Regions from separate parts of the Homo sapiens genome. Here region 2 is linked to region 1. The links come from fine-mapping of genetic effects on gene expression. A gene starts in region 1. The other region holds a variant in brackets. All regions are shown on one strand. Distances are between the middles of the regions. Region 1 holds the start of SLC44A5 (solute carrier family 44 member 5). Region 2 overlaps SLC44A5 (solute carrier family 44 member 5).

The links.
Region 2: its variant is fine-mapped to the expression of SLC44A5 in whole blood (TOPMed, PIP 0.96).

Annotation. Positions count from the first base shown.
Region 1 is chr1:75,601,987-75,618,434 of GRCh38, reverse strand. SLC44A5 (solute carrier family 44 member 5) reads left to right here and starts at 7,321. Exons shown (of 24, transcript NM_001130058.2): 1 at 7,321-7,395. RefSeq lists a silencer at 2,273-2,492.
Region 2 is chr1:75,458,667-75,475,114 of GRCh38, reverse strand. All of the region lies in intron 2 of SLC44A5 (solute carrier family 44 member 5), which reads left to right. Among named protein-coding and RNA genes, the nearest start is that of SLC44A5, 140 kb to the left of the region's middle. The variant C/T (reference allele first, on the strand shown) is at 7,106.

The DNA of each region.
Region 1 (16,448 bases):
GGGCTATAGGGGAAACACTTGGCCTGGAAATCCAGGGCCTGGGTAGTTGTGGCCTTAATGTCTTTTGGTCTCAGTTTCCTCATCTGTTCAGCAGGGCTGAATAAACCTCTTTTGATGATCTTATGTGATTGTCATGACCTTAATTGAGATAATGCATGTAAGGACACTTTGAAGTGCTAACAGTGTAAAAGCATATTAATCACATCCATGTACCAAAAATAGTCCTAACTAGTCAACTAAATTTGAGTCTCCTCTGTTGAGAATAGTACTGACATTGTGGAAGGAATAAATTAGAAAAAGGAAACCATTCCTGGTCTGAAGCAGAAATATTCTATTTCACATAGGCAGCTAGTGTTGTGGAGAGAGCTGGGTATTGAGTTAAAAGAGTTACACCGAAGCTGTGGGCAAGTTATCATACCTCCACGAATCCCATTTCACCGTCTGTAAAACCTAGAAGACAGGACCTGCTTTTCAACTCATGGGTGTGGTCATGATTAAATGAAATAAAGTATGTGAAAGTAATGAATAAACAGAAAAACATTATTCTAATATAGGCAATAATTAGTAGTTGGTGATAAAATATGAGCACATAAAATGGACTGAAATATTTACAAAGTCTAATATTATACACAGTAAACATTTGAAGACCTAGAAGAGTAGTTTTTAATTAAATAAGAGGCAGCTGTTTGGAAGAGGAAAACTTTGAGTCAGTCTTATTTCTGATCATAAGTCTGAGAATGGGTCTATTTTGCTTATTAAAAGAAACATGTTCTTTGTTTTTTATTTCTGATGCACATCTTCATTGTGAGAGGAATTGGTCATTTCACATGTTTCTAGATTATTTACTTCAATATATTACATTATATGAAGCTATATTTAGAAGGGCTGAAAAAATAACTTGTGATGATTTTGTCACTAATATCTCAGGAGCTGGAAGAAATTTTTGAGATGATATCGCACATATCAGAAAACAGAAGAGCAGAGAGATTGAGTGACTTGTCCAAATTCTCAGAGCTACGAAGTTACAGGGCCAGAATTCACAATTGGGGTTTTTGACTTCACTGTTCTTTTTGCCGCACCACACTAGTACTGGGGCAACTTCTGGGTGGAGATATTGAATTAACTCACTGAATGTTTAGACAATCAGATTGGGCTGGGAACTGTACTAACCTAGGAGGAGGAAAGGAGAAGTGTTAAGAAGGTCACTGCGAATTAGGAAGTGCGTTTCGGCGGCAATCTCAGCTGCAGCATATAAAAAAAATTCGATATTGTAGCCTCTTCCCACAGTGGCACACCCTGGTAACCTCTCCCTACCCTACCCTTTAAGCGTTTCTTTTTAAGGTCCGATACTCCTTTATATTCTTAAACTTTCGCCTGCCCTTGCAGTTCTGGGACGCCAGCAGAACTTCTTTTCATCCCTTATCAGCACGCGAGGGGAGGACAGCTCCTCCAGGAACATGAGAACTTTCCAAAGCAAACCCCCAATCAGAGAGAGAAAGAACGTGGCCACTGTAACCAAGTTTCTGCTGGAGGCCAAGAAATCACACCTCCGGCTTCCAATTCCTCCAACATCTGAGAGCGTGAACTTCCCTCTTTTCCCACAGCCCCAAGGGAACTATCCTGGGCCCTCACTATTAAGAACTTCAGGGCCAGAACACAGCCATTCTTGCAGGTGTCTGCCCGTGGGCTGCCTCTGGAATTCCATTTCTCTCCCCTCCATCAGACTCCTGTTTCCCTCTCCCCTCTTTCCTTCTCGGTTCGGGAGGGGCAGAGGCAACCGCGCGCTTCGGGGCTCATCGCCCGCGTGGAATTCGGGCTCGCTATCCTCGAGGAGGCTGTGGAGGAGGACGGCTCCTGGGCCGGGTCGCAAGGGACAGTGCCGTCCTCCCGCAGGTGGCCAGAGTTCTGGTTGGCCTGTGAAGACGGGTGTCTTTCTTGGGCCCAGCGCGTCCTGGCCTTTTGAGAGGGGGCTTCGAAGGCCCAGAGGAAGGCAGGCCGGAGGCAGACTCCATCAGACTCTGCCTGGCTTTCTCCTTCCCGGCCCCAGATGGCCGCGGTCTCTCCGCGCCCCCCAGCAGCTCCCCGCCGCCGCCACCGTTGTCTTTCCAGTAGAGGCTGCTGGATGACGGCGCGGTAGCCGGTTGGATGGGGGCTGGCGGCTCAGACGGGACACCGGGGGTGGGGGCGTGGGGGAGGGAGGGTGTGGAGAAGGGGGAGGTCAGCGCTGGGCGGGCGCTCAGGGGACCCAGCGCTGCCCCCTCCAGCAGCAGGAGCAGCACAGCAGCCGCCGCCGCCGCAGCAGCCACCGCGTCCACAGCAGCGCAAGAGGGGGGCCAGCGGCGCGGCCGAGAGCAGAGGGGCGGCGGCGCCCGCCCCAGCCGAGCCGAGCCGAGCTGAGCGCGCAGCCCGGCCGCCGCTGCTGCTCGCAGATGCCATCACAGCAACAAAGAGCTCGCTGAGCTGAGAGCCGCGGCGAGGGCTCGCCTGGGAGCTGCGCGGCAGCCGGAGGAAGCGCGTGGGGGGTCCGGGGGAGGGAAGGGGACAGAAGATGGCCAAGAAGAGAAAGCCCCCCAGCATCAAGGGTGAGTCCCGCTCCCTCCTCCCCTCGCCGCCTCCCCTCTCTCACCCGCCCTCTGCCCCTCGGGCCGGCCTGTTTACATCCAGGCGCGGCCAAGTGGAAGGCTCCTGCCGGGGAAGAGTTTGCCGTGTCCGGGGAGGGGGTGGGGGAAACCGCGGCGCCGCTGCACCTCCCCTGGCCTCCGGGGACACTGACAGGAGTTTGTGCCCCTTTTGCAACCTGGGGAAACCTGGAGACTCCTCTCTCACCCCACCCCTTTGCTACTCGGCGAGCTTGGGTATCTATCTGTTGCACCTCCTAGCCTCTGGGCAGTGGGGAGAGAAGCGACTGGGCTCCTAGCATCTTGTCTTTTCCGGAATCTCTCTCTCTCTCCCTCTCGTGTGTGTGTGTGTGTGTGTGTGTGTGTGTGTGTGTGTGTGTATGTATGTGTGTGTGTGTGTAAGAGAGAGAGAGAGTTTTTCATGGTCTCTTCTATTCTTTTCTTCCAATCCCCCCTCCCTCCGCCCCTTCGTCCCTAGGGTGACAAGTTCTGCATCCATTTCCCCAACCTCCATCCTCAGGAGGAGATTGGAGCTGGCTGCCTCTCCTTTTCCCTGCGGTCAAGGGGACTTGCTACCGGCCGAGTCCCTGCAGGCTACTTCCTGCTCCCCAACCTGTCGAGACGGGCAGTGGCTCCGGCTAAGCAGTCTCCCTGTTGCTCCTTTGGAACCCGGGCTTCCAAAGTTGGAAAGTTCGCGGAGAGAAGCGATGGCGGGGAGGACAAGGAAGAGCTTGTTGCTGGGGTGACGAGGCATTGCGGCGTGGTCCGGGGCGCGACTCGGGAGGGAGCCTCCTGGGCTGCGTCTTGCCTAGGGGTCGCAGAGCCGGCGCGCGGGGAGCAGGTGCAAGCCACCCGCTCCCGCAGCGCGGACTCGCAGAGGTCGCAGCTTGTCGGCTCCCTAGCTCTCGCTGGGGGACTCGCAGAGCCCTAGAGGTTGTCTGCAGCACTGCAGAGAGGTGGAAGTGGGCTCGACACCATGCGCGGTGAGGAAGGCTGTGCGCGGGGGAACTGGACCTGAGGATGGTGGCAAGGAAGGGGCGTCGTTCGAAGTTGGATTTCAACACAATGGGCCCAATGACCTGGGAGGCAGCGACTTACTGAGCCTTTGGGGTTATATAAAAAAGGACAGGAACTCAGATGAGAACTGAGGGGTGAAGGGTATTACTGAATACATTGGCTTGGACTACAGCAGCGCTCAGGCTTTGGCGTGCTTTTTGCTTTTCCTCCCAAGTCTGGCTTGTGGGAGCTTAGCTCCGCTCTAGAGGTCACTAGGGGGACACAACTTTATCTTGGCGCGTCAGCTTGCTTTTTAATTGCTCCGGAGTACTCAAAGCACTTACTGGAAAGCGTTTAAAATCATGATCCTTAATTCTTAAGAAGACATTACTATGAAAACACCTGGGACTTTTTGTTGTTAAAAATTATAACCTATGTATGACAATTTTATTGCAATGCCTTTTCTTAAAATATTATAGCTCCTGTAAAATTAGAGGGGCTTTAAACCTCTGATTCCCCCCCTCCATAAATTAGCGCATGGGTATAGAGATACACGAGTAAAGAAAGAAGAGAGAATATATTCACCTACAAACAGATTCCTCTCTTTATCATAATATCAAATAATTAGTCTAAGCCCAGATTGACAAGGCGTATGAGCTACACTTTTGGTTCGCTCCTTTTTTATGGAGCCATATGGCACGATGAGTGAAACAGAAGGATTGGTTTTCAGCACTGCTGATGTGGCTATCCATTGGCAGAAATACATTTCATTCCCACCCCAAACCTTGCAGATTGTAAATGGTCCATGAAGAGTGGAAAAAATTTTACAGTTTTACAGTACATGGTAGCCAGAGAAAATCTTACCCTTGAAATTAATAATCTTGGCAGAAGCACAAAAAGATACAATTAGATTGATGAAATGAGCTCATATAAGAGATTTGATGAAAAAGACACCTCCCCTTTATTCTTCCGTCCCCTCAAAACACCAAAAAGTTTTTGTTTTGTAGGTCAGTATGGAATCATTTGTATTTTCTTGAATAAGTTTAATTTGATAGTGAAATAATTGAAGAATAGCAGTTAAGTGTTAACAGTTTCTCTGGAAGGATTAATAATCAAGCTTTCTTACGACATGTGGTCTCAATAAATTTTATGTAGTACTTTAAAAATAAGGTTTTCTCATGCTACATGTTTTTCTTAAAGGAAAAGTTATGTTACTTAGCTCCTATCAACTTGTGTTGAGTTGTTCTTGTTTTTTAAAACAAGTTCATTTAGTATTTCACAGAAAGAAGGACACCTTTAAAAACAAATCCTTGGAGTTTCACTTTAGCGAAGCAGGATGAATTGTGATATTTGATAGATGACAGAAGCAAACCCAGAAAGTTGTAATCTATTGACTTGCCTCAATTTTGCCTTTTAAGAGGAGAGCTCTACAAAAGCATCTGACTGCAGGCTTGCTGAACTGCTCTCAGATGTCTGCTTCTAAGCTACAACCAACTAAACTGGGACTGCCTGGTAGGAAAAATTTCTAGGCTTTATTGGCAGGGGCAGGCTACTGGGGTGAACTTTGCTGGATAAAACACTGTAGATTTAGCAATATTCCATGCTGTGTTGGTTATTCTCTTACAAGAGCTGCTTCTCTGCTTAGCTACACCGCATGCAGGGAGAGATCATTCGTCGGATCTTGTGACAGGCAAGTTGCTCATTGGCTTCTGAAGTCCTAGCAAGAGAGACTATCCATAAGCCTAGAAATTGGCCAAAGAGAAATGCAGTTTCTTAACATTGATAGAAGAATAAGATCTGTTGGCAGGATTTCTCAAGGGACATTAGCATTCATTTGTGACATCTCATCAAAAGGACAGTCTTTCAGAAAGGCCAATGGAATCTTTTACAATCCAATATTGATAATGTTTTTAACGAAAAAATGCTATAGTTCATAATCAATACAAGTCTTATAAATGCAAGCTGGTTACATTGGTTATAATCACGTCACCACCCCCACCCCTGCCTTTTCCAATATTAGTACAACAAAGACTTCTTGCTCAATTACTTAAGTGTAAAACTTATGTTTAGGTTAATTTATTCATTTATTCATTTAGCACATATTTATTGAGCACTGAATATGTACCAGATTCTGTGCAAAACACTAGGGATACGGTAATGAACATGATAGACAATGAAGTAAGAGGAGGCCTGGAAGAAGCAGGTGACAAATAATATGAACCAGAAAATTTCACATAGTGATTAATACCAGGAGAAATAAAACAAAGTGATGTGCGAGCAAATGATTTTGAGGTTACTTTAGATTGTCTGGAAAGGTGGCATTTGTGTCGGGAAACAAGTGATGAAGAGTAATTTGCATGCCAAGAACTGGAACATAACACTTCAGGCCTTAAGGTAGAAATGAGGTGGTAGCTTGGCACATTCACATACAAAAGGAAGAGGTGTAATGTGTAAGGAAGAGACAGTTAGGGAGAAGCCAGGCCTTTTTGGTCATAAAAAGGAATATAGAGTTTAAGTGCAATGAGAAGCCATTGGATATTCACTTGCTATTTGGGGATACATTCCTCTCCTGGAAGATTATTTCAGGGAGAGGAGCATTCCTACATCAACTCCCTAGGCCAACTAAGGTGACCTAATAGACTTCACTTTTCTAAAAGGTCCAGTTATACTCACGTTATTTTCTCTTGCTATTCACCAGAATACCTATGCAATTTCAGGCTGAGATATTGATAGCATCTCTAGGAATCCCTGCTTAGAAAACAATTCTAGAGAGAATGAGGATTAATTTAACATTTAGTACAAGATGATAAGATTAGTCACTTCCCTGGCAAGCCTTTCAATGCAAGTAAGTCTTAGGAAAAACATATTGTAATGGTAGAGGGGGATTCTGAGGGGTCCAGAACATGACTGTGCAGTAGGCAGAATGTGGAAGGCAGCATGAGGGGCTCCTAGATAACAGAAAGGGGTCCACAGAAGGAGAAGAGTGATGTTTGGAAGGGGACATGAGAAAGCCTCTAAAACAACATCAGCCAATTCGTGATTTTGCCAAGTGGAAGCCTGATATGAGCATGTTCCAAGAGAAACATTCTCATTCAAACACAGAAAAAGTTTAAACCAGGGTACTTTTATGCTTTTGACTGATCTTTTTATAATGAAGCATTTGTAACAATAAAAGCACACAGATGTTTACAAAGTCTCTTTGATTTTACTTAATCACTGTCAGGTTGTTCTGATGGATTACAGACCTCACAAATGAAAATAGCATGAACATATTAATGATAACTGCTGTTTGTTGGAGGTAGTTGCTTGATAGCTAGTTAAGGAAATCATGCTCTTGGGTCTCATTTTACTGTAGAGATGTTGGTAAGTGGGATATGGGGTATATTGGATGATTTTCTTTCCCCTAAGCATTTGTGACAAGAAGGTGCTATGATATTCAGGAAAGACACAAATAATAGTAGATTATTTTAAAGGTAATCATGGCCTACTTCCACCTCCAAACTACCTACTTCTTTGCCAAGGATTAACAATGAAAAAATATACTATAGCTCCAGGACTTTGTTCAGTCTCCTCCCCCTCTTTATACTCCAAGTGACTCCTTTGAGGCTAGCAAGGCTAGTAGGACCTCAGGGATTACCTAAGAATGGGGTATGGCCCTTAGTGATACTGGAACACAATGTGTTTATGACATCAGCTTTTTTTTCACAGTAGTGAATCGTAGCATGTTAGAGTTAGAAGGTTCAGTGTTGATGGAGTTATTGAAGAAATGATGGAGTAAGAGGTGAGTGATACTGCTAAATGCAAGAAGTCTATGTCTGTAGGAAAATTGGTCAAGTTTGTTATTCATAAGTACGTATTCTATACAACTCAAGAAATACACACACACACACACATATATATAGTGAAGTCTGAATATAAATTAGGAACTGAGCACTTCCTCTCCGTGTGTGTGTGTGTATATATATAGATATCCTGGGGGATTATTTAAAGAGAGTAGTATTTTTACATCAGCTCCCTAGGCCAAGTAAGGTGACCCAATGGACTTCACTTTTCTAAAAAGTCCAGTTACACTTATGTATCTTCTCTTAATATTCACCAAAATATCGACAATATTTCGGGCTGAGATGTTGATAACATCTCTAGGAATCCTTACCTACTGGTATTCACACCTGTTCATACTCCCCTTCCAAAATGAATCACAGCTGACCATGTGATCAGTACTGTACAGCAGAAAACTACATCATAAAGACATACACTATGGCTTCTGCCTTGTTCTTTTGTATTCTTTGCTTTCTTATGTTGCTCATTTTGGGGAAACCAGATGCCATGTTTTAAAAATACTCAAGGATCCCTTGGATTATTTTTTGAAGCAGAGGTTCATACAGATATTATTAACATTTCAGCCCAAAATATTGTCGGTATTTTGATGAATAGTAAGAGAAGATACATAAGTATAACTGCACTTTTTAGAAAAGTGAAGTCCATTGGGTCACCTTACTTGGCCTAGGGAGCTGATGTAGAAATATTGCTCTCTCTAAATAATTCTCCAGGATATCTATGTGTATATAGGTATATGTATGTATATGTATATACCTATGGAGAGAGAAGAAGAGCTCAGTTCCTAATTTATATTCAGACTTCACTATGTGTGTGTGTGTGTGTGTGTGTGTGTGTGTGTGTGTGTATTTCTTGACTTGCATAGAAGTCTTGAATCTTAGCTCTGTGTGGGAAGAACTGAGGCCTCCTGCTAATAGCAACAACTTGCTAGTTATGTGAGTGATCTATCTTGGGAACAGACCCTGCAACCAAGTCAAGCCTTCAGATGACTGTAGCTTCAGCCAACATCTGACTGAATTTCATGATAGCCCCGACCCAGAGCTATCCAATCAAGCTGCTTCTGGATTCCTGAATCACAGAAACCATAAGATATAATAAATGCTTACTCTTGTCTTAAACCACTAAAATTTGGGGGTAATAGGTTACATAACATTAGATCATGAATATACCTGTGGTTCATTATTTTTGCACCTCTATCATGAAATGTAATATTTGTTACTAGTTCCAACACTGATCTTGAATCTTAGCCCTCTTTCCTATTTAGTGAATTGGGCTGAAACCCTGAAGTTCTCTTTTCTTGTTTCCCTTGAGTTTCTTGTAGCAGCTTGCTTTCTCCTCTGCTTTTTTGAGTACTGATTCCTGGCTCCTCTAGTTCATTTAGTTTAGAAGATACTTTCCAAATTGAAGCACTACCGAACCAAAAATCAGAGTGATAAAGAGAATACAAAAGCCCTAAAATCTCCCAACAGCACAAGATTTCACAGTCCTCCAAACTAAGAAGATAGAAAGTTTCTTAAAATCTACAATCTTTTATTCTCACCATCAAAAATAAGAATGTAAGGTAATGAATATGTTAAATAGCTTGATTTAGCCATTCCACAATGTGTATATATATCAAAACATCAGGTTTCACACCATAAATATATAAATTTTTACTTGCCAATTAAAAAAGAAAAAACCCAAAGAAATGAAACCCTAAAATATTCAAATAAAAACCTTTCCAGCTGTATTTATCTATTCCTCCTTACCAAAGAATCCCTTCCTCCTCCCAGCCCAGTTAGTCCTTTGAGGTATAAATAGGAGACTGAGAAAGAGGATTTAAGAAAGGAAGGTTGCCGTCTCTTCTACTTGAGAGTAGGATATTAATCTATTTTATTCGTTCATGTAGTTCTCTATTCATTCAATAAGTGTTAATCAATCGCTTACTATGTACTGGGCACTATTCTAAGCATGCTTGGGATAAATCAGGGAACAAAATGAATTCTTCATGAGGTTTACACTATACATAGGGAAGACAAACAATGAATAATAAGCATGAATACATTGTTGATATTAAAAATTGAAAAGTGCCATGACAGAAAGAAAAAAAAATGAGCATAGTAAGGGGGATTTGGATTGCTAATCATGGGATGATGGTGGGCCAGCTGCAAGTATTAATAGGGTGGTTAGGGTAGGACCAATTGACGAGGTAATATTGAAGGACATGAAGCAGTGGAAGGGGAGGAGACTTCCAGAAGGAAGGAAAAGCCAGAGCAAAGACCCTACAGTGAAAATATACCTGGTATGTTTGACTAACAGAAAGAAGACCAAGTGGAATTAGTAAGGGGGATAGAAATAGAAAATGAAGTCAGAAAGATGAGGGAAGACTAAATTATATTAAACTTTTTAGAAAGTTTTAAGACTTTGGTTTTTACTCTGGGGAAATGTGGCACCAGTTCAGATTTTGAACAGAGGAAAAATATGATCTGACTTACATTTTAAAATAATTGCTACGGCGACTGTGTTGAGAATATCGAGCCAATATGTAGGGGTAATGAGAAACTAGAAGACTAGTAAGGAATCTTTTGCAATAACTCTTTAAAAATTTTCTTCTTCTGGTGGCTGAATAATACTCCATTGTGTACACACACAACACACACACACACACACACATACCCCTCACATTTTGTTTATCCATTCATCTGTGGATAGACACGTAGGTTGATTCCATATCTTTTTCTCTGGAAAAATATATTTTCAGTTCCTTTGCCTATTTTTAAGTTGGGTTATTTGTTTTTTTTTGTTTTTTGTTTTGTTTTGTTTTGTTTTTGCTATTGACTTACAACAACATGGATAAACCTGGAGGACTTTATACTAAGTGAAATCAACCAGGCACAAAAAGAAAAATACTGTATGATCTCACTTATATGTGGAATCCAAAATTATTGAACTCATAGAAGCAGTGAGTAGAATGGTGGTTGCCAAAGGCTGGGGGAGTGGGAGAAGTGAGGAGATACTAGTCAAACAGTACAAACTTACAGTTATAAGACAAGTTCTGGGGACATAATATACAGCATAGATAGTGATGGATATTGTATTAGTTTGTTTTCATGCTGCTAATGAAGACATACCCAAGATTGGGTAACTTATAAAGGAAAGAGGTTTAATTGACTCACAGTTCCACATGGCTGGTGAGGCCTCACCATCATGGCAGAAGGTGAATGAGGAACAAAGTCACATCTTACATGGCAGCATGCAAGATAGCATGTACAGGGGAACTCCCCTTTATAAAACCATCAGATCTCATGAGACTTACTATCATGAAAACAGCATGGCAAAGACCCACCCCCATGATTCAATTACCTCCCACTGGGTCCCTCCCATGACATGTGGGAATTATGGGAGTTACAATTCAAGATGAGATTTGGGTGGGGACACAGCCCAAACTATGTCAGATGTGTTATTAAATTTGGTTGTAATAATTATTTATTATACAACGTGTACATATACCAAATCATCATGTTGTACACTTTGAATACATACAGTCTTTATTTGTCAATTAATATTTTAAAATAAAAAGTTGCTTATAAAAAATAATTCAGTTGAGAGATGATAGTGGCATCTATCAGGGTAGAAGCAGTGGTGAACATGAGAAATGGAAGGATACTGAATATATTTTTAAGGTAGAACTTATATAATTTTAAAAACTAACAGGATGTTTCATGTGAGAGAAAGAAAGGAGTGATGGATTAATGCACAGTTTTTGACCTAAACAACTAAGAGAAGGTGGACTTGGCATCAACTACTATTTGAAGATTGTAGAAGGGGCAAGTTTATGGGGAAGGATCAGAAGTTTAGTTTTGGACACATTTGGGTTTGAAATATTTATTTGATATACAAGTGAAGATGACAAGTAGGAAGCTGGATATGTAAGTCTGGAGTCTTGGAGAGAGGCTTGGGCTGATCATATGAATTTGGAATTCATCAGAACATTGGTGGTATTTAAGATCACAGACTGGAAGACTCACTGGGAATTGAGTATAGATTGAGAGAAATGATCTGAGCCCAGGGCTGCTCCATTATTAAGAGATAAGTGAGAAGGGGAGGAGTCAGTAAAGGAGATTGAGAAAGAGCAACTGGTGACTAAGAAGTGGGTGTGGGGTCTTGGAACCAAGGAAGAAAGTGTATCAAGGAGGAAAATGATAATCAACAGTGTCAAACGCTGCCCATAGGTCAGGTAAGATCAGGGTTGAGAAATGGCCATTGTATTTATTAATATGAAAGTCATTGAAGACCTTAATTAATTAATATGAAAGTCAAAGACAGCCCAGGTGAAGTGGTGGCAATGATGCTTTGAGTGAAGTGGGTTAAGAGAGAATGAAGAGGAGGAAAATTAAAGACAGCACAGTTAACTGTTTTGAAGGGTTTTGCTTTAAAGGGAGCAAAGAAATGATATGGCTGGGGATGGGAGTTGTGGAGTTGAAAAAAGATTTGCTTTTTTAAGATGGAAGAATAATAGTGGGTTTTATTCCTTGTTGTTTGTTACTATCTGTGTATTGAGGTGGGTTTTAACCTCTCTTTTACTATTTTAAATTTTGGGTGCTTTTTATGACAGTTTCCTATGGAGGTAAGATGAATTAATGTAGAATGGTCTTATGTTGCCTAGTTCTAAGGATGTTTCTCTTTTATCTTCTTTTACGTCTTTAAATGTATTATCTTTAAGAAATATTAAATGGAGTATTAAGAGAGGTATAGAAATGGATTTTCTGACAAAATAATAAAATATGCCATAGTAGGAAAAAGTTTCCAGAAGACAAGAGTTTGCCAGTCATCTTGTTGCTGACTGTGGCAGTCCATTCCCTCACTTGAAAGGATCTTAAAGAACTAAAGAAAAATTAAAAAAAAAAATTGTGCGGGAACTAGCCTAATGCTTCTCAACCAGGGGCAATTTTACAGTGTCTGGAGATATTTTGATTGTCATGACTGGAGTGGCGCTGGTGGCATCCAGTGGGTAGAGACCAGGGATGCTACTAACATTCTATAATGTACCTCCTCACAACAAAAGATTACCTAGTGCAAATTGTCAATGTTGCCAAGGCTGAGAAGCTATGGGCTAGCCCTATCATCTTTCCTTTCTTCCAGAGAGAAGCTAGGAAGCTGCTTCTGAAAAAGGGATCCGGAAGCAGGAGCTTTCCCTATCCCATTGTTCTGTGTTTAGATGAGACACAGCTTTTAAATAAATGATTAGGGTTCAAAATAAAGACATTTCTTTTTTGCCTTTGCTTTCTCTTTACCCCCTTCTGTGGATTCCCATAGTATAATCGAATTTTATAACTTTTGGTAGTTTCCCATTAGGGCCCATGACAGAGGAACATTAAAGTCATGGTGAAAAATTCCTCATTCAGTTGAGAAACCACAATTTCACATTGCTGATTTCTATTCTGCATCTGTCTGACAACTTAGTGAAGGAAAGGATGAAGAATAGGGTGATTTGTTAAGCTCTGACTCTACAAATCACTATAGCTTTTTAATATGAAAGGAGGGGTGGCCTCTCAGGCATCTTTTTTTGTAGCTTTTTTGGGCCATTAGGATTTTGGATGAGAGCTGCATTGTTTATTTATTTATTTTTATTTTTTCTCCACCTTCTCATTCTTAATAACTCTACCTTCAATATGTGCCTTATCTTTTAAGAAAGGCTCTGAAGAAACTCAGAACAGGTCCTAAGTGCTTGTTGAATGAAAATTTTCTTGTAGAATCAAAAATTTAAAACCCAATTTTAAAAGAAGCAATTTTAAATTCATAGTTTTTAAAAACTTAAAAGGCAGGTTTTTAAATGTAAATTTGCTAGTTCTCTGGATTGTCTTTCAGTGTTCAAAGTCAAAGACAAAAATCAGGCTTTCAAATTGACATTTTAGGAAGCATCCCCCTTGAGAACTGGAACAAGACAAGGATGCCCACTCTTCCCACTCCTGTTGAACACAGTACCGGAAGTGCAAGCCAGAGCAATCAGGCAAGAGAAAGAAAGAAAAGGCATCCAAATAGGAAAAGAAGAAGTCAAACTATCTCTCCTAGGAATCCCTAAAGACTGCCAAAGACTTTTGGAACTGAAAAATGACTTCAGTAAAGTGTCAGGATACAAAATCAATGTACAAAAATCAGTACCATATCTTTACACCAATAATGTTCAAGCTGAGAGCCAAATGAAGAACATAGCCTAATTTACAGTACACACACACATACACACACACCCCTTGGTTTCACCTCTAACCAAGGAAGTAAAAGGTCTCTACAAAGAAAACTACAAAACGCTGCTGAAATAAATCATAGATGACAGAAACAAATGGAAAAACATTCCATGATCATGGATTGGAAGAATAATAAAATGGTCAAACTCCCCAAAGCAATCTACAGATTCAATGCTATTTCTATGAAGCTACCAATGGCATTTTTCACAGAATCAGAAAAAACTATTCTAAAATTCATATGGAAGTAATAAAGTAATAAAGAGCCCAAATAGGCAAAGTAATCCCAAGAAAAAAGAACAAAGCCAGAAGCATCACATTACCTGGCTTCAAACTATATTGTAAGGCTACAGTAAGCAAAACAGCATGGTACTGGTACAAAAACAGACACATAGACCAATGGAACAGAAGAAAGAACCCAGAAATAAAGCTGCATTCCTATAGCCAGCTGACCTTCAACAAAGTAAACCAAAATCAGCAATGGGGAAAGGACTCTCTACTCAATAAATGGTGCTGGGATAACTGGCTATCCATATGCAGAAGAATGAAACTGGACCCCTACCTTGTTTGATATGGAAAAATTAACTCAAGATGGATCAGAGAATTAAATGTAAGACTTCAAACTATAAGAATCTTAGAAGAAAACATAGGAAACACCATTCTGGACATTGACTTTGGGAAAAATTTATGACTAAGTCCTCAAAAGCAATGACAACAAAAGCAAAAATTGCAAGTGAGACCTAATTAAACTGAGTAGCTTTTGCACAACAAAAGAAACTATCAACAGAGTAAACAGACAACCTACAGAGTGGGAGAAAATATTCACAAACTGTGCATCTGACAGAGGTCTAATATCTAGAATCTATAAGGAACTTAAACAATTGAACAAGTAAAACACCAATAACCCCATTAAAAATAGGCAAAAGAAAGACATGAATGGACAGTTCTCAAAAGAAGACATACAATTAAAAAAAAGAAGACATACAAGCAGCAAAAAAAAAAAAAAAAACATGAAAAAATGCTCCACATCACTAATTACCAGAGAAAGGCAAATCAAAAATCACGAGATACCATCTCATATAAGTCAGAATAACTATTATTAAAATTTAAAAATATTTGGGTGAGGCTGCAGAGAAATGGGAATGCTTATAAGCATATATACACTGTTGGGAATGTAAATTAGTTCAGTCACTGTGGAAAGCAGTTTGGAGGTCTCTCAGAGAGCTTAAAACAGAACTACCACTTGACCCAGCAATCCCACTACTGGGCATATATCCTCAAAAAACAAATTATTCTACCAGAAAGACACATGCACCCGCATGTTAATTGCAGCACTATTCACAATAGCAAAGACATGGAATCAACCTAGGTGCCCATCAACAGTGAATTGGATGAAAAAAAAAAAGGTACAAATACACTATGGAATACTATATAGCCAAAAAAAGAACAAAATCATTTCCTTTGCAGCAACATGGATGCAGTTAGAAGCCATTATCCTAAATGGATTAATGCAGTATCAGAAAATCAGATACCACATGTTCTCGCTTATAAGTGGGAGCTAAACAACAGGTACTAATAGACATAAAGATGGCAACAATTGATACTGGGACTGCTAGAGTGGAGAGGGAGGTTGGGGGAAAGGGTTGACAAATGAACTGTGGGGTACTATGCTCAGTACCTAGGTGACAGGATCAACTGTACTCCAAACCTTATCATTACACAATATAACCAGGTAACAATGTGTATATGTACCCCCTGAATCTAAAATAAATGTTGAAAAACTCTCAAACCCAAATTAAATATACATAAATAAATTTACATTTTATTAAAAATGTATTACTACTCTAGATTTGCCTTACAGGAAAGTCAAAACTTATTTTAAGCTTAGCCTATGATTATATACATTTGTACGTACAAGTTTAAAAATATCCAAAGTCATAAAATTTAACAAAAAAGGTAAAAGCTACTTACTGGGCATTTATGCTTCACAAACTAGTATTAACAGCACCTTTCACTTTGAAATACTTTTTTTCGAAGTGAAAAACACATTTTTCTTATTTATCTCAGCCTCTTATCACACTTTTGTTTGGTTGCACAAGAATGTCATCACATTCTTTACTCATGGCAATGACATTGATTCTGCTGATTTAACACCTTTGCTTTACTGAAAGAGTATTGGTGACTAAAGGAGGACCATTATTGCTCTTTAAAAAATGTTTAATCATAAATAGATGTGTCCAGGGATATCTTAACTGTATGAGGTATGATAGGCTTGAAATTATAAAGCACAGCTTTGGAATACACCCCTCCACAATCCTTAACCACTCAGAAAGTCTTACGTTAATACATATTATTTTTTGAACTTTATGAAAACTGCATTGAATAATTATCACACTTCCTACACACCAACTTGTATTTAATGATTTATGGAAACATTACTAAGACAAAAGAAGGACATAGCCTTCACTTGACTAATTCTAAGACCAAGGCTCCCTATGTTTTAACTTCTGTAAACTCTCACTGCCTGAATAAATACCTTAGGTATAATGAAGCGTAGGCAAATAATAGATTATAAATAAGTTGACCGAGGTCAAGAGAGGCATTTAACCTATTTAACCTATTTGGGAAAACAACCCATTTTCAAATTTTTAACAGCAGTAAATGGTAGAAAAGTATACTAATTAGAAATAATCATTTACTAAAGCAAATCTTTGAGGAAGTCTAATGAGTAGTTTCTTTAGCCAATTGCTTGTATTAAAGGACTGGAATAACTTTT
Region 2 (16,448 bases), 140 kb after region 1:
CTTTCATAAATGCCACAGAGGGCAAGTGGTAAAGGACATGGAATTCAGGCTCCTCATTTCACTTCCTGCTGATGTGTGAATAACTCAGGGGCGACACACAACGATTTTACTTTATGCCATTTGGCATTTCATTCAGGCAGTTGAATTGTTGCTGCTCTCTTACCAGAGGTCTTAGTAGGGCCATTTTAGTAGACCTGTGCTTTGGAAGAATTCAGAATTACTTGAAAATTCCAGTTACTAACATATGCTTTTTGAAACAAATTATATGAAAAGAGCAGTTATATTGTTTATTATAAAGTTAGCCTAAGTAGAATTTTCTGGATTGTTTTTAAAGGAAGCCCACTCACATCATAATTAAATATGTATTGAAATAAGAGAAATTTGGGGTATAAAATTTTACTAATTATGACTCTGTCTTGTATTGTCATTTTGAAAATGTGTTTGAGCCACATAATTCTATGCCCCACAAAGAAAACTTCCAATTAACTTGGACTACTAATTGGCAATAACAAAACAAAACATCCTTGTGTAACATTACACGTAAATGTCTTACTATCAAGATTAGCTAATGACCTATATCTTAATTTTATGAATGACAATAACTCCACTATATTGATTATCAATCCAGAAAATGTTAAAGTCAGAGGAGAATATTGGCATTGAGGTGTGAATTTGAAAGCATTAGTATTATAAGATTGAAAGTAGTGTTCTCGTGAATGAATGTAAGTATATATAGAGATAATTATCCTGGGAACATGTTTAATTTAGCTTTAGTATGCAGTGTTAAATGACTTTATTTAATAATAAAACAGAATGAATCTAGTAAGTTTAGACTGGACAAATTTACTATCGACAGTAAGTGCCTAGGAATTGACAGAAGGTGCAGACTGTATGACAAAGAAATCTAAATATTCTTAGAAGTTCCTTCTTTTTTTATTTTTCAGATTGTTGCCATTCCCCATCTCCTGCCTTGAATCTTAGAATGAAATCTGTTATTGACAGTGAACTAATTTAATGAAGCAGTGTTAAATATTCAATGAAGCAGCAAATCTGCTCACATTTTTATTAACATATATTTTTGAAGAAACAAAGCAAGTCTACAGGCATAAAACAATGTTATGTCTATATGTCATGTATGTGCAGGTATTGAATCAGGACTAAAATATCTCTGATATTCTATGACACCACCACACTACAGAGCCACAGAGCTCATATTTAGAAGATTCATTATATTACTTAGTACTAAATATACTGCCACCAGCTAGGCTGGACAAATTTGCTATTGGACAAAGTTGGAAAAGGCCACAACAGAGGAAAAAATTATTTTCTTATTTATAAAGAAAGGGAATTTATAAAATTATGGAAAGAACATAAAAAATAAGGCTAGAGTCAAGAAAAAGCACTTGTAAAATAAGATGCTGATTATAGTGCTAGAATTAGAGAAGCTGATACAATAGGGAAAGTCATCTGTAAAAGTATTATCTCTTGAAATTAAACATAGAAATGTGAATAAGAAAACATCTATGTGTGAATGGATTTTGAGTGGGGCAGATAAGTGTTTTTAGCAAAGAACAGCGCAAATCAAGTACCCCCAAATTCTGCAAGAAACAAACAAAACCCCATCGCCTACCTCACCAAAAATTGTCTGACACAGTTGGGCTAAATCCATGTCATCAACTTAGAATTTGCTTTGGAAACCAGCAAGTGAAGTTGAGTCATATTTTCAGAGGCTTCCTCTTCCTCTTTGGAAAATCATCAACACATTTTCATCTTGTAAGCTATGTTTTTTTTCTTTTATAACCAGCATTGATTTTAAAAGCTTTATCCAATTCTTGGTTCTTGAATGTCCCTGAAGATATTTTTGAAGGATTATGCAAAGTGTTGCTCCCTCTGGAACTCCCATGTAGGCCCTGGAGATGTTGGGAAATGCTTGTGAGTAATTTTCATGCATAAAAAAGGACACTTAGCTGAATGCTAGATTGTAATTCAATCAGGAAGTTCCGATGACATTCTAAAACTGTACAGTCTGAATGCTTTATGAATAATACCACATTGCCAACACTGAATTACAGCTAGTATTTTTACACGAGGACTAGGAATACTAGCAACATAAAACAGTTTTATAGCCAGTTACCTTTGAGGTTGAGGGAGATGACAATTCATCACACAGAAGTCTTTAGTGCATCCCACAAAGATTATAATATGTGTAAGAGTGAAGGCTTGCCACTTGTTAGTCTATGAGAAGGATTTAAGTATAGAGGACACGGTGGTCTGCAAAACATTATAGGACTTGTGAAATGAGGACAGGGCTGCAATGCTTTTGAGGACACTCGGGTTGCCAGAAACACAAATCCTAGTCCTCATAAATACCACATTTGTGCTTTAATCATAAAAATTCTATTGAGACTAACCTTTCAGTGAGGGAATATTATCTAAAGAGAGCACAGTCATTTCAGCTGCTAAATGAAAAACTTGTATTTTATAAGCCTAGAAAAAAGTGAGTTGAATGTTATCATAAGATAACACATGGTCTTGAGGCACCCTGGGGCGCTGATATCTCACTTCACAGCGCAAGCTCAAAACACTCCTAGCTTGCTTAATAATTGTCAAAGTTATTTTAATTTGAACCATAACCAATTATTTATGTAAAAGAACTGTAAGAATGATAGTAGGAGAGCAAGAACATGAAAATTTATTTTTTTTCAGGCTTGTTGAGATTAATGAACCCTCAAAGATGTTATTAACTTTGCAGAATGGGTACCACATCTAAACAGCTATGCATTTCAAAATACCTTGGCTTTCTTCTCAAAAGAAAGAATTAAGTTGATACTCATGACTGAATCAGAAAGGTACTACTGACAGGTGCTCGGCACACTTTCCCCTGCATGACTCACCCTAAAGATACCTTATTTTTTCCATGAAGCCTTTTTATTCTCATATTTTTCTTTGGTCTTGTTTGAAAGCTCTATTCCCAGTGGCTTGAGAGAAGAAGAATAAACACCCAGGCCCCAGTAGTTTTTTTTTTTTTTTTAAACCCAGGGGGATATGCTCTGCCTATTGTCCTGAACACTAGCCAAAATCCTACTAAAATACAATATCTAGTATTGCCAAATCCTGCTTAGAGAGACATGAGAAACCTGAGAGTTCCTTCCATGGCTTGCCACAAAACAGATTATGGGTCTGGAAAATAAAAATAACCAGGAAGTGGCATTATAAATATAGATCAGAGAAAAAAAAGCCTTAGTGGTTCCTTGTTCATGGTCCTTAGGAATGTGCAGAAGTTTTGGACAGAGGATACAAACTAGCTTATTTGATCTTCTCTAGGCATAGGTAGAATAAGAGTAAATGCCCATAAGAAACTACACAAAGGGTTTAGAGACTGAGCTAAGAAAAAGCTGCCAGTCTGGAGTCAGTAGAAGAAAATTAAGAAATAGAGGGCAGTGGAATGCCAGAGAGAGGAAATACTTTGAACACATTAGCAAAGGAAAAATAGAAAAAAAATCATATTTGGAGAAGAGACATGAGCTCTGCCCGCATTCTCTTGAGATCTTTTGCTTGATTGAGGGCATGGGCTTTCCCCCTGCCATGATTGAGATAAAAGGCTATGATCAGGTAGAGGCAGTGCTTTGGAAGCTGCTTATGTCATTCCTCCCTCCTTTTCTTTTGTCCTGGTTCTGATTTAATTCATGGGTGTGTGTGTGTGTACGTGTGTGTGTGTGTGTGTGTGTGTGTTTTCATGCACACAAGCTTATGTATTAGATGGAGAGGGATTTGAAATTTTTCCTTGTTGAAAGGAAGGCTTCAAATGAAACAGCAATCCATCTCGCAGGAAAATTCCCATCCTGGGGATTCCCTTCAAGGCAGAAATTCAAGCAATGATGAGAAAGGTGCCCTTAGACTTGCCCAGTAATGAGATGTTACAAGCCATTAATTTTATGAAACTCCAAAGAAACACAGCCAGGCCGTAAAAAAAAGGTTAAAAAATAGATCTTCAACGAATCACTGAGAAAATACTAACTTTCCAAGTCCAGGGAATAAATTTGTCTGAGCCCTCTATTTTTCCCTCTCTGCATTATATTTGAAGATAGTTGTGTTTTGTTAGCTTTTTCATTTACCCCCAAAATACTTGCAAAATGCTTTAGTTTTAGAATTTTCATGTAATTGAGGAGTTAGAAACCCACCAAAGGTAGGGAGTCAAAGCAGAAACAGTTACTCAGATGCCTCTGGTAGCTATCCATTGTTCTAGAGAACAAGTCCATACTCGTAGCTTAAAAGGGATGGCAGGATGGCACTCTTATTTAACTCCTTACCCACATCTCTCCACCTGGACAGCCCCTCCCAACCCTCCCACCATACTTATCTCAGTTTTTCGACATGCCATGCCAGGTCACGCTTCTCTCTGGCCTTGGACATTCCATTTCCTCTGCTTCAAATTCCTTTCACTAGGCTAACACCTACTCATGGTGTAGGTTTAGCTTAGACTTCACTTTCTTCAGGAAGCTGACGCCAGTAACATTCCCTCCCCCTCACGTCTGGGTTATGGCCCCTCCTGCGTGCTTCCATTATACCTTCCCTATCTTGGTAGTCTTCACACTATATAATAATTTAGATGCCTATTTACTTGGCTGTAGTAGTCCTCACTAGACTATAAATTCTACCGTTATGTTACAGAAGAGCTCATACAACATAAACTACCTTTTGTGGAAGGATTATTTCAAACGTGGGGACCTAATTTTAGCTGTGGCAGTACGTGAGGAACATTTATAAGGTAGGGCACAACTGTACATTCACTTGGTTTCTCTTGAGTGCTCATTCTCTTCCATCTTTGAGTATGTTTTTTACTGCTGTTTTAAAGTATAGCCCTAGGGTTCTTGAAAACCAAAGCTTTTAGCTTCACGTGTAGACTTCATTCAATTTTTTTAAAAAGTATTGTCTTGAGGATTGATTGGTTTGAAAGCTTGGTTGTTATGAAAAGCTCTTATCTTTCCAGGGTTATTCCTTAGTTGCTCTTACAGAAACACCAAAACTGTAGGAATATCTTTAATATGCTGTCAAATAGAAAGGTTGGTGATAAATACTTGCCTCTAAAGAATGTTTTAGGAGCTTAGGAAATATGCAAGTCATCCGTGAAGCCCTCCTCCCTTTGAACTGCAATTTTTTATTATGGGAGTCAGGATACGTTGACTCTACTTTTTTTTTTTTTTTTTTTTTTTTCTTCACAAGGTCTCTCTCTGTCGCCCAGGCTGGAGTGCAGTGGTGTGATTATAGCTCACTGTAACCTCGAATTCCTGGGCTTAAATGATCCTCCCACCTCAGCTTCCTGAGTAGCTAGGACTACAGGCATACACCACCATGCCCAGATAATATTTACTTATCGTTCAGACAGCGTCTTGCTATGTCTCCCGTTGGTCTCAAGCAATCCTTCTGCCTCACCTCCCAGAAGGCTGGAATTACAGGCATAAGCCACTGTGCTCAGTCTGACTCTACTTTTTGTCTCAAAGCCAGGACACCTTATCCCAATGGCATAATATTTTTATTCCATTATACGCCGTACCATTTTAGTGATTTTTTCCCCTAAGTTCTACACACACTGGTTTCAGAATGATATTGCCAAAAGGAAAGAAGAAGAAATTCACTACACTTTTTTTTTTCTGGGAATGCTAGTAAAATCTGCATCTAAATTATATAAATGGTATTATTGTCTTCTTAAGTGGCACATGGTGTTACAGCTCACGCTTATTATGTCATCATTTACCTTTCATAAGTATTTTCAACATTCTTTTATCAATCAGTTAGTCTTCAACTGTGCTGTCCAAGATGGTAGCCTCTTTTCACATGAAGCTATTGAGCACCTGAAATGTGGCTAGTCTGAATTGAGATGAGCTGTAAATGTAAAATACAGACCAGCCTTCAAAGACTTGGTTAAAACAAAAAGGATTCAAAATATCTCATTTTTATCTCAAATAAATGAATTTATATTGATTACATGTTGAAATGATAATCTGAATATATTGGGTTGAGTAAAAGGCATTATTAAAATTAATTTCATCTGTTTCTTTTTACCTTTTTAATGCAGCTACTAAAAAATTAAAACTTGCATACCTGGCATGCAATATATATACATTTTTAATTTTTCATTTTAATTTTTGTGGGTACATAGCAGGTGTATATATTTATGAGGTACATGAGATATTTTGATGCAGGTATGCAATGTATAATAATCACATCATGTAAAATGGGTGTATCCATCCCCTCAAACATTTATCTCTTGGGTCACTAATAATCAAATTATGCTCTTCTTGTTATTTTTACATGTACAATTAAATTATCATTGACTATAGTCACCCTGTTGTGCTGTCAAATACTAAGTCTAATTCATTCTTTCTATTTTTTTTGTACCCATTAACCATCCCCACATCCCCCAAACCCCATTGCTGCCTTTCCCAGCCTGTGGTAACCATCCTTCTCCTCTCTATCAACATGAGTTCAATTATTTTGATTTTTAGTTTCCACAAATAAGTGAGAACATGGAATGTTTGTCTTTCTGTGCCTGGCTTATTTCACTTAGCATAATGACCTCCAATTTCATCCATGTTGTTGCATATGACAGGCTCTAGTTCTTTTCTATGGCTGAATAGTACTACATGGTGTATAATATGATGTTTTCTTTATTTACTCATTTGTTGATGAACACTTAGGTTGCTTCCAAATTTTGGCTATCGTGAAGAGCGCTACAACAAACATGGGAATGCAGATATCTCTTTGATACACTGATCTTTTTTCTTTTGGGTGTATACCCAGCAGTAGGATTCCTGGATCATATAGTATCTCTAGTTTTAATTTTTTGAGGAATCTCAAAACTGTTCTCCATAGTAGTTGCACTGATTTACATTCCCACCAACAGTGTATGAAAGTTCCCTTTTCTCCTCTCCTTTCCAGCATTTGTTTTTGCCTGTCTTTTGGACATAAGCCATTTTAACCGGGATGAGATGATATCTTATTGTAGTTTGACTTGCATTCCTCTGATAATCAATGGTGTTGAAAACCTTGTTATATGCCTTTTGTATGCCTTTTTTTTGAGAAATGTCTATTCAAATCTTTTGTT[C/T]ATCTTTTGATTGGATTATTAGATTTTTTTCCTATAGAGTTGAGTTCCTTATGTATTCTGGTTATGAATCTCTTGTCGTATGGTTGTTTGCAAATATTTTCTCCCATTTTGTGAGTTGTCTCTTCACTTTGTTGATTGTTTCTTTGTTGTGCAGAACTTTTTAACTTAATGTTATCTCATTTGTCCATTTTTGCTTTGATTGCCTGCACTTGTGGGGTATTACTCAAGAAATTCTTGCCCAGAACAATGTCCTGGAGAGTTTCCCTGAAGTTTTCTTTTAGTAATTTCATAGATTGAAGTCTTAGATTTACACCTTCAATCCATTTTGATTTAGTTTTTGTATATGGCGAGAGATAGGCATCTACTTTCGTTCTTCTGCATATAGATAACCTGTTTTCCCAGCATCATTTATCGAAGAGACTGTCTTTTCCTCAGTGTATGTTCTTGGCACCTTTATTGAAAATGAGTTCACTGTAGGTGTGTAGATTTATTTCTGTGTTCTCTATTCTGTTCCATTGGTCTATGTGTCTGTTTCTATGTCACTATCAAGCTGTTTTTGGTTTCTATAGCTCCATAGTATAATTTGCAATTAGGTAATTTGATTTCTTCAATTTTGTTCTTTTTGCTTGGGATAGCTTTGGTTATTCTGGGTCCTCTGTGGTTCCATATAAATTTTAGGATTGTTTTTTCTATTTCTGTGGAGAATATCATTGGTATTTTGATAGTGATTGAATTGAATCTGTAGCTTGCTTTGGGTAGTATGGACATTTTAACAACATTGATTCTTTCAGTATATGAACCTGGAATATTTATCTATTTCTTGGTGTCCTCTTAAATTTCTTTCATCAGTGTTTCATAGTTTTCATTATAGAGGTCTTTCAGTTCTTTAGTTCATTCCTAGGTATTTAGTTTAATTTGTGGCTATTGTACATGGGATTACTTTTTAAATTTCTTTTTTCAGATTGTTTATTATTGGCATATAGAAATGTTACCGATTTTCGTACGTTGATTTTGTATCTTGCAACTTTACTGAATTTGTTGATCAATTCTAATAGTTTTTTGTGCAGTGTAGGTTTTTCCAAATACAAAATCATATCATCTGCAAATAGGACAATTTGACTTCTTCCTTTCCAATTTGGATGCTCTTTATTTCTTTGTCTCATTGCTCTAACTAGGAATTTCAGTACTATGTTGAATAACAGTGGTGAAAGTGGGTATCCTTGGCATGTTCCAGATCTTAGAGGAAAGGCTTTCAGTTTTTCCCCATTCAGTATGATAATAGCTATGAATCTGTTATATATGGCTTTTATTCTATTGAGGTATGTTCCTTCTTTTTTTTTTTTTTTTTTTTTTTAAGATGGCATCTTGAACTGTCACCCAGGCTGGAGTGCAGTGGCACAATCTCGGCTCACTGCCACCTCCACCTTCCAGGTTCAAGCAATTCTCCTGCTTTGGCCCCCCAAGTAGCTGGGATTACAGGCACCTGCCACCACGCCCAGCTAACTTTTTGTATTTTTAGTAGAGACAGGGTTTCACTATGTTGGCCAGGCTGGTCTCAAACTCCTGACCTCGTGATCCGCCCACCTCGGCCTGCCAAAGTGCTGGGATTACAGGCATGAGCCACCACACCCGGCCAGTGTGTTCTTTCTATTTCTAGTTGTTTGAGGATTTTTATCATGAAGGATGTTGAAATTTATCAAATGCTTTTTCAGCATCAATTGAAATGATCATATGGGTTTTGTCCTTCATTCTGTTAATATGATATATCACATGGATTGGCTTACGTATGTTGAACCATCCTTGCATCTCAGGGATAAATCCCATTTGGTCATGACAAATGGCCTTTTAAATGTATTGTTGAATTTGGTTTGCTAGTATTTTGTTGAAGATATTTGTGTCAATATTCATCAGAGATATTGGCATGTAGTTTCCTTTTTTTGATGTCTCTTTTTCTGATTTGGATATAAGAGTAATACTGGCCTCGTAGAATGAGTTTGGAAGTATGCTCTCATCCTCTAATTTTGGAATAGTTTGAGGAAAATCGATATTAGCTTTTCTTTGAATGTTTGTAGAATTCAGCAGTGAAGCCATTGGGTGCTGGTCTTTTCTTTACTGGAAGACTTTATAACAGCTTCAATCTTGTTACTTGTTATTGGTCTATTCAGGTTTTGGATTTTTTCCTGGTTCAATCTTGGTAGTTTGCATGTGTCTAGGAGTTTGTCCATTTCTTCTAGATTTTTTAATTTATTGGCATATAGTTGCTCATAGTAGCCACTAAGGATCTTTTGAATTTCTTCAGTATCAGTTGTAATATCTCCTTTTTCATTTCTGATTTTATTTATTTGGGTCTTCTCTCTTTTTTTCTTAGTCTGGATAAAGGTTTGTCTATTTTGTTTATGTTTTTTAAAACCAACTTTTTGTTTTATTGATCTTTTGTATTGTTTTCTTCATCTCAATTTCCTTTATTTCTGCTCTGATTTTTATTATTTCTTTTCGTCTACTAATTTTGGTTTTGGTTTGCTCTTGCCTTTCTAGTTCTTTAAGATGCATTGTTAGGTTGTTTGAAGTTTTTCTTCTTTTTTTGGGTAGGTATGTATGAGTACTGCTTTTGCTATATCCCATAGGTTTTGGCATGTTGTTTCCATTATCATTCGTTTCAAGAAATTTTCAGTGTTCTTAATTTCTTCATTGGCCCAATTTCCTTCTTAATGTCTTCATTGACCCATATCCAGGAGCATATTGTTTAATTTCCATGCATTTGTATAGTTTCCAAGATTCTTCTTGTTGTTGATTTCTAGTTTTATTCCATTGTGTACAGAGAAGATGACTGATATTATTTCATTTAAAAATATTTTAAGACTAGTTTTGTGACCTAACATAAGGTCTGTCATTGAGAATGATCCATGTGCTGATGAACAAAAAATGTGTATTCTGTAGCTCTTGGATAAAATGTTCTGTAAATATCTATTAGATCCATTTGGTCTATAGTGCAGATGAAGTATGATGTTTCTTTGTTGATTTTCTGTCTAGAATATCTGTCCAAGGCTGAAAGTGAGGTGTTAAAGTTTCCAGCTATTATTGTATATTGTACTGGGGCCTCTCTCTTTCTTTAGCTGTAATAATATTTGCTTTATGTATCTGGGTGCTCCAGTGTTGGGTGCATATATATTTAAAATTGTTATATTCTCTAGCTGAATTGACTCCTTTATCATTATACAGAGACCTTTGTCTCTTCATATAGTTTTTGTCTTGAAATCTATTTTGTCTGATACAAGCATAGTGACTCCTGCTGTCTTTTGGTTTCCAATAGCATGGGATATCTTTTCCCATCCCTTTATTTTCAGTTTATGTGTGTATTTTTTGTAGGCAACAGGTTATTACTTCTTTTTTTTCCCATCCATTCAGTCAGTATATTTTGACTGAAGAGTTTAGTCCATTTACATTCAACGTTATTATTAATAAATAAGGACTTCTGTCATTTTGTTCTATGTTTTCTGCTTGTTTTGTGGTCTTTTCTTCCCTTTCCTTCCTTTTAATGAAGGCGATTTTCTCTGGTGATGTGATTTAATTTCTTGCTTATTTTTTGTGTATCCATTGTATGTTTTCTGGTTTGAGGTTACCATGAGGCTTGCAAATACTATCTTATAACTCATATTTTAAGCTGATACCAACACTGTTTCATAAACAAACAAGCAAAAAGAAAACAAATAAAGACTCTATGCCTTAGCTTTGTCCTCCTGCTTTTTACCTTTTTCTTCTTTCTTGCTTTTTTTTTTTTTTTTTTTTTTGAGACAGAGTCTCACTCTGTCGCCCAGGCTGGAGTGCAGTGGTGCAATCTCGGTTCACTGCAACCTCCACCTTCCAGGTTCAAGTGATTCTCCTGCCTCAGCCTCCCGAGTAGCTAGGACTACAGGTGCATGCCACCATGCCCAGCTAATTTTTTGTGCTTTTAGTAGAGATGGGATTTCACCATGTTAGCCAGGATGATCTTGATTTCCTGACCTCATAAACCTCCTGCCTTGGCCTCTCAAAGTGCTGGGATTACAGGCATGAGCCACTGCGCCCGGCCTCTTGTTTCTATTTATATCTTATTGTGCTATGTCTCAAAAAGTTGTTATTGTTTTTGTTTGGTTCATTGTTTAGGCTTTCTACTTAGGATAACAGTAGTTTACACACCACAGTTACAGTGTTGTAATATTCTGTGTTTTTCTGTGTACTTACTATTACCAGTGAGTTTTGTAACTTCAGATGATTTCTTATTACTAATTAACATTCCTTTCTTTCTAAGTGAAGTACTCCCTTTAACATTTCTTGCAGGATGAGTCTAGTATTGATGAAATCCCTCAGCTTTTGTTTGTCTGGGGAAGTCTTTATTTCTCCTTTATGTTTGAAGGATATTTTCACCAGATATATACTATTCTAGGGTAAAAATTTTTTCCTTTATTGCTTTAAATATATCATGCACTCTTTCCTGGCCTGTAAGATTTCCACTGAAAAATCTGCTGCCCGACATATTGGAGCTCCATTGTACGTTATTTGTTTCTTTTCTGTTGTTGCTTTTAGGATCTTTTTTTTTTTTTTTTTTTTTTTGAGACAGAGTCCCGCTCTTTAGCCCAGGCTGGAGTGCAGTGGCACAATCTCGGCTCACTGCAAGCTCCGCCTCCCAGGTTCACGCCATTCTCCTGCCTCAGCCTCCCGAGTAGCTGGGACTACAGGCGCCTGCCACCGCGCCCAGCTAATTTTTGTATTTTTAGTAGAGACGGGGTTTCACCGTGTTAGCCAAGATGGTCTCGATCTCCTGACCTTGTGATCCGCCTGCCTCGGCCTTCCAAAGTACTGGGATTACAGGCGTGAGCCACCGTGCCCAGCCAGGATCTTTTTTTATTAATCCTTGATCTTTGGGAATTTGATTGTTAAATGCCTTGAGACAGACTTCTTTGGGTTAAATCTGCTTGATGTTCTATAACCTTCTTGTCCTTGAATATTGATATCTTTCTCCAGGTTTGGGAAGTTCTCTGTCATTTTCCCTTTGAATAAACTTTCTACTCCTATTCCTTTCTCTACCTTCTCTTTAAAGCCAATAACTATTAGATTTGCCCTCTTGAAGCTATTTTCTAGATATCGCAGGTGTGCTTCATTTTTTTAAAAAAATTCTGTTTTCTTTTGTCTCTTCTATGTATTTTCAAATAGCCTGTCTTCAAGCTCACTAATTCATTCTTCTGCTTGATCATTTCTGTTATTAAAAGACTGTGATGCATCCTTCAGTATGTCAATTGCACTTTTCAGCTCCAGAATTTCTGCTTGATTCTTTTTAATTATTTCAATCTCTTTGTTAAATTTTTTCTGATAGCATTTTGAATTCCTTCTCTGCGTTATCTTGAATTTCATTGCATTTCCTCAAAACAGCTTTTGAATTCTTTGTCTGAAAGGTCGCATATCTGTTTCTCCAGGACTGGTCCCTGATGCGTTATTTAGTTCATTTGGTGATGTTGTGTTTTCATGGATTGTCTTCATTCTTGCAGATGTTCATCTGTGTCTGGGCATTGAAGAGTTAAGTATTTATTCTAGTCTTCTCAGTGTGGGCTTTCTTGTACCAGTCTTTCTTGGGAGGGCTTTCCAGGTATTCTAAAAGACGTAAGTGTTGTGATCTAAGCTGTATTTGTTTTAGGGGGTACCCAAAGTCCAGTAACACTGTGGTTCTTGCAGACGTGTAGAGGTGCCACCTTGATGTTCTTGGACAAGCACTGGGAGAATTCTTTGGATTACCAGGCAGACTCTTGTTCTCTTCCCTTACTTTCTCCCAAACAAACAGAGTTTATATCTTTGTTCTGAGTCAACTGGAGATGGGGGTGGAGTGACATAAGCACCCTTTGGCTACTACCGCTAGGAATGTCCTGGGTCAGACCTGAAGCCAGCACAGCACTGGGTCTTGCCCAAGGCCTGCTTAACTACTCCCTGGCTATGGCCTATGTTTGCTCAGTGCCATAGGGCTCTACAGTCAGCAGGTGGCAAAGTCAGCCAGGCCTGCGTCCTTCCCTGCAGGATTGTGATTTTCTCCAGGACCCAGGAGGGTCCATAGGTGTTGTTTGGGAGCCAGGAACTAGAGTCAAAAACCTTAAAAGGCCATCTGATGTTCTATTGTACTTTCCATTTTTCCCTCCCCTTTCCAAAGGCAGAGGAGTCTTATCCCATACCCACCACCACTCCAGGCCATGAGGAGTACTGGCAGATTACTACCAATGTTCCCCCTAAGGCCCAAGGGCTTTTTAGTCAGCTTATTGTGAATGCTGCCTGGCCTTGGACTCACTCTTTAGGGTAGTAGGCACTCCTCTGGCCGAGAGCAGTTTCAGAAATGCTATCCAAGGGTTTGCTTTGTATTTTTATTGGACAGTGCTGGCCTAGACAGTAACTCAATAATGAGAATTTTATGTTTTCTTTTGCTAGGAAAGAGCTATTTAGTCACCGTGGCTAGCAAAATTTGGTGACTTGGTTGACTTGGACAAATGGGATCCTCAAAACACAATTAAATATATCTAATGTCCTGAGACACACCACTCATAATAATATTAATAGTTACTCCAGTGAACTAATAATATTATTTACCTCTTTGGATTTTATAAGGATTCAATTAAGATAACACGTGTGTGAAGGTTGTGACCTAAATAATATTATCTTACAGGGAGAAAGGTGCATGTGAAAATTGTCAGAGATGAAAATGGTTAGGGAACAATTTTAAAACTATTTTCATACCTGATGTATAGTAGTAATGTGCTCGATTATCTGTGGAATTAATTTGATCATCAGAGAAGAGATCTCTTTTGGTTTATGTGAAGACTTTGTATGCCAAAAGCATTTTTTGTGTTGCTATATAATCTTTGTAAACATTCTTGTAAATGGTGCATGACATTTTGTTTAATCAATATACCAGCCTTTATTTAACCATTTTCTTTTTCTCGGACATTGGGTTGCTTCCATTTTTTTTTTCACTATCATTAATATTATGGTGATATACATCTGTAAAACTCTCCCCATATTGTGGATAAATTTGCAAGGATGTCAGACTGATTTTAATGGAGATGAATTATGTAAGAATGGAAAACCATTCAAATTCCTGACTAAAAGTGAACAATTATCCAACTAGAAGGTAGTTGGATGTAAGTGATTTTCTTACCTGTCTTGCATTTCTAGGGTAGAAAAGATAAATGGAGAAAAGATTGGTTAAATGTTGACATGAGATTATTCCTATTGAGAATATTGGCAATAAAAATAGCAATAATATCAGTAGAGATTTGGGGGATATTTCAATTCCAATGTCTAGATCCCTTTTATTGGAATCTTGAATGTTGAGTTTTAGTCTCATTGAATAATTTTATCTAAAGTAGTCAAAAAGACTCTGAGATTGTCCCACAGCTGCATAAAGACCCATATAAATGACCAACATTACATGTGAATTAGTTTAAATCTACACAGTAGGTTTAGCAATACACCAACTTTGTTTGTAAATGGGCTTATATCTTCCAGTTTCATAAAACGTTTTTGGGAGAAAGGTTTCACTTTGTCCATGACTGTGCATCTGTAAACATTTTATCTTTAGAGCAGATGTTTAAAGCCCCAAAAGTTGAGTTTACATTTTGTGAAATATTTATTGTCTTAATCACATAGTTTCTGTACTGGTAGTAGGTTAGAAATTTCAATTCATTCCAAATAAAGTTGGGCGGAAGTAGGAAGGCAATGCCAAATTAAAGCAGAGTACTTTAATAATGATTCCTTTTAAAATAGGGCTTCTCATTATCATAACATTATAAACTCCATTTGTCCTCAGAGTTCCAGAGTTCAAGAGCTCCTACAGCAGAGCTCATTCATGTGGAGAGAACAGTGCAGAGAATGTATATATAGTGAGGCAGATTTGTATAGTTTATGTTCGATGTGTATATAGCCATTAATTTTAATATAGTCGCCCTTACTCTCAGGAACACCTGCTACCTGAACAATCCAGTTTTAAAACCAACTCTCCAAGAATTATTTCCTACTTCTTCTTCCTGGTTTTCAGGGCATTGCTTAAGCACTGCTTTGTATAAGATTCACGTGCCTCCTGTAGTTCCAACTGCAGCAGGAGGATTTCTTGAGCCCAGGAGTTTAAGGCCAGCCTGGGCAACATAGTGAGACCCTATCTAAATAATGATAATAAAAGTAATATGTTTTTAAGTTACAATTACCATTATATTGGTTGAACATTTGAAAGATTCTAGATGCTTTACAGACTATGACTATTGGCCTGCATTACATGCCATGAATTCTAATAATTGTGTGCTGATAAGATGACATTCTGGGTTTCAAAGGAAAGATATTCCATTTAGAATTAGAACCCCAGGGCTCAGGTGCTAACTATGTTACTTGGGCAAGTCACATAACTCTGAAAGCTACTGTATTTCCTTCTCGGGAAAGGGAGGGTGATAATAATTACCATACCTTTCTTGCACCTCACCAAATGAACAAACATCTGCGAGTGGTTGTCAGGTGCTGGGAATAGAAGGGGATCCTCTACAAAGGATCATATAAAAAGTTTTGGAGGATGAAAGTGCTTTATATGTTGATGATGTTGGTGGCTACATAGCTATGTACATTTGTCAAGGCTCAGAACTGAATGTCCAAAAAATGGATAAATTTTTACTGTATGTAAATTATACTTAAAAACGGAACTTTGTAAATACTAAATACTAAATAAATAAAGGCTATTATTTTTTCTTTCCATGGGATGTCAATTTCGTAAGACAGGCAATAGCTTTATAGTGACTATTAGAGGAGAGATGGTTCTTCCTTGTGCTTGGATTAGAGCAGACGTCCTTGTGACTCTTGAATCTTCATCTGGATAAATTATCTTTCTCTATCCTTGGGCCAAAAAGAATGAAACTTTTATTAAAGTGATTTCTCCGGGGCACTATCCCTCACCAATATCTTTTTTCACTCTCTGAGCTCATCCATTCTTCTGGCTTTAGTTATTCTGATGGGGTTCAATTCTCTATCTCTTACTTGAACCTCTTTCTTGAACTCTAGATCCGTATTATTTTTGTATGGAAATTCCACAGGCATCTTCAAACTCATTATATTCAAAAACAAACTCATTTTTTCCACCAGTTCCTTGCTTTTTCTCATTAATTCTTCATATGTTTATTAAGTGCACACTTTGTGAAGGCATTGGGTTAGGCACTGGAAAAGCAAATAACATAGTTCTTTCCTTCATTAAGATTATAGACTAATATTAATAAATATACTATAAATTAAGCAAAGTATAAGAGATATTCCCTTCCTTAGTTTTTGTGAAAGGTAGATAGTATCCTTGATT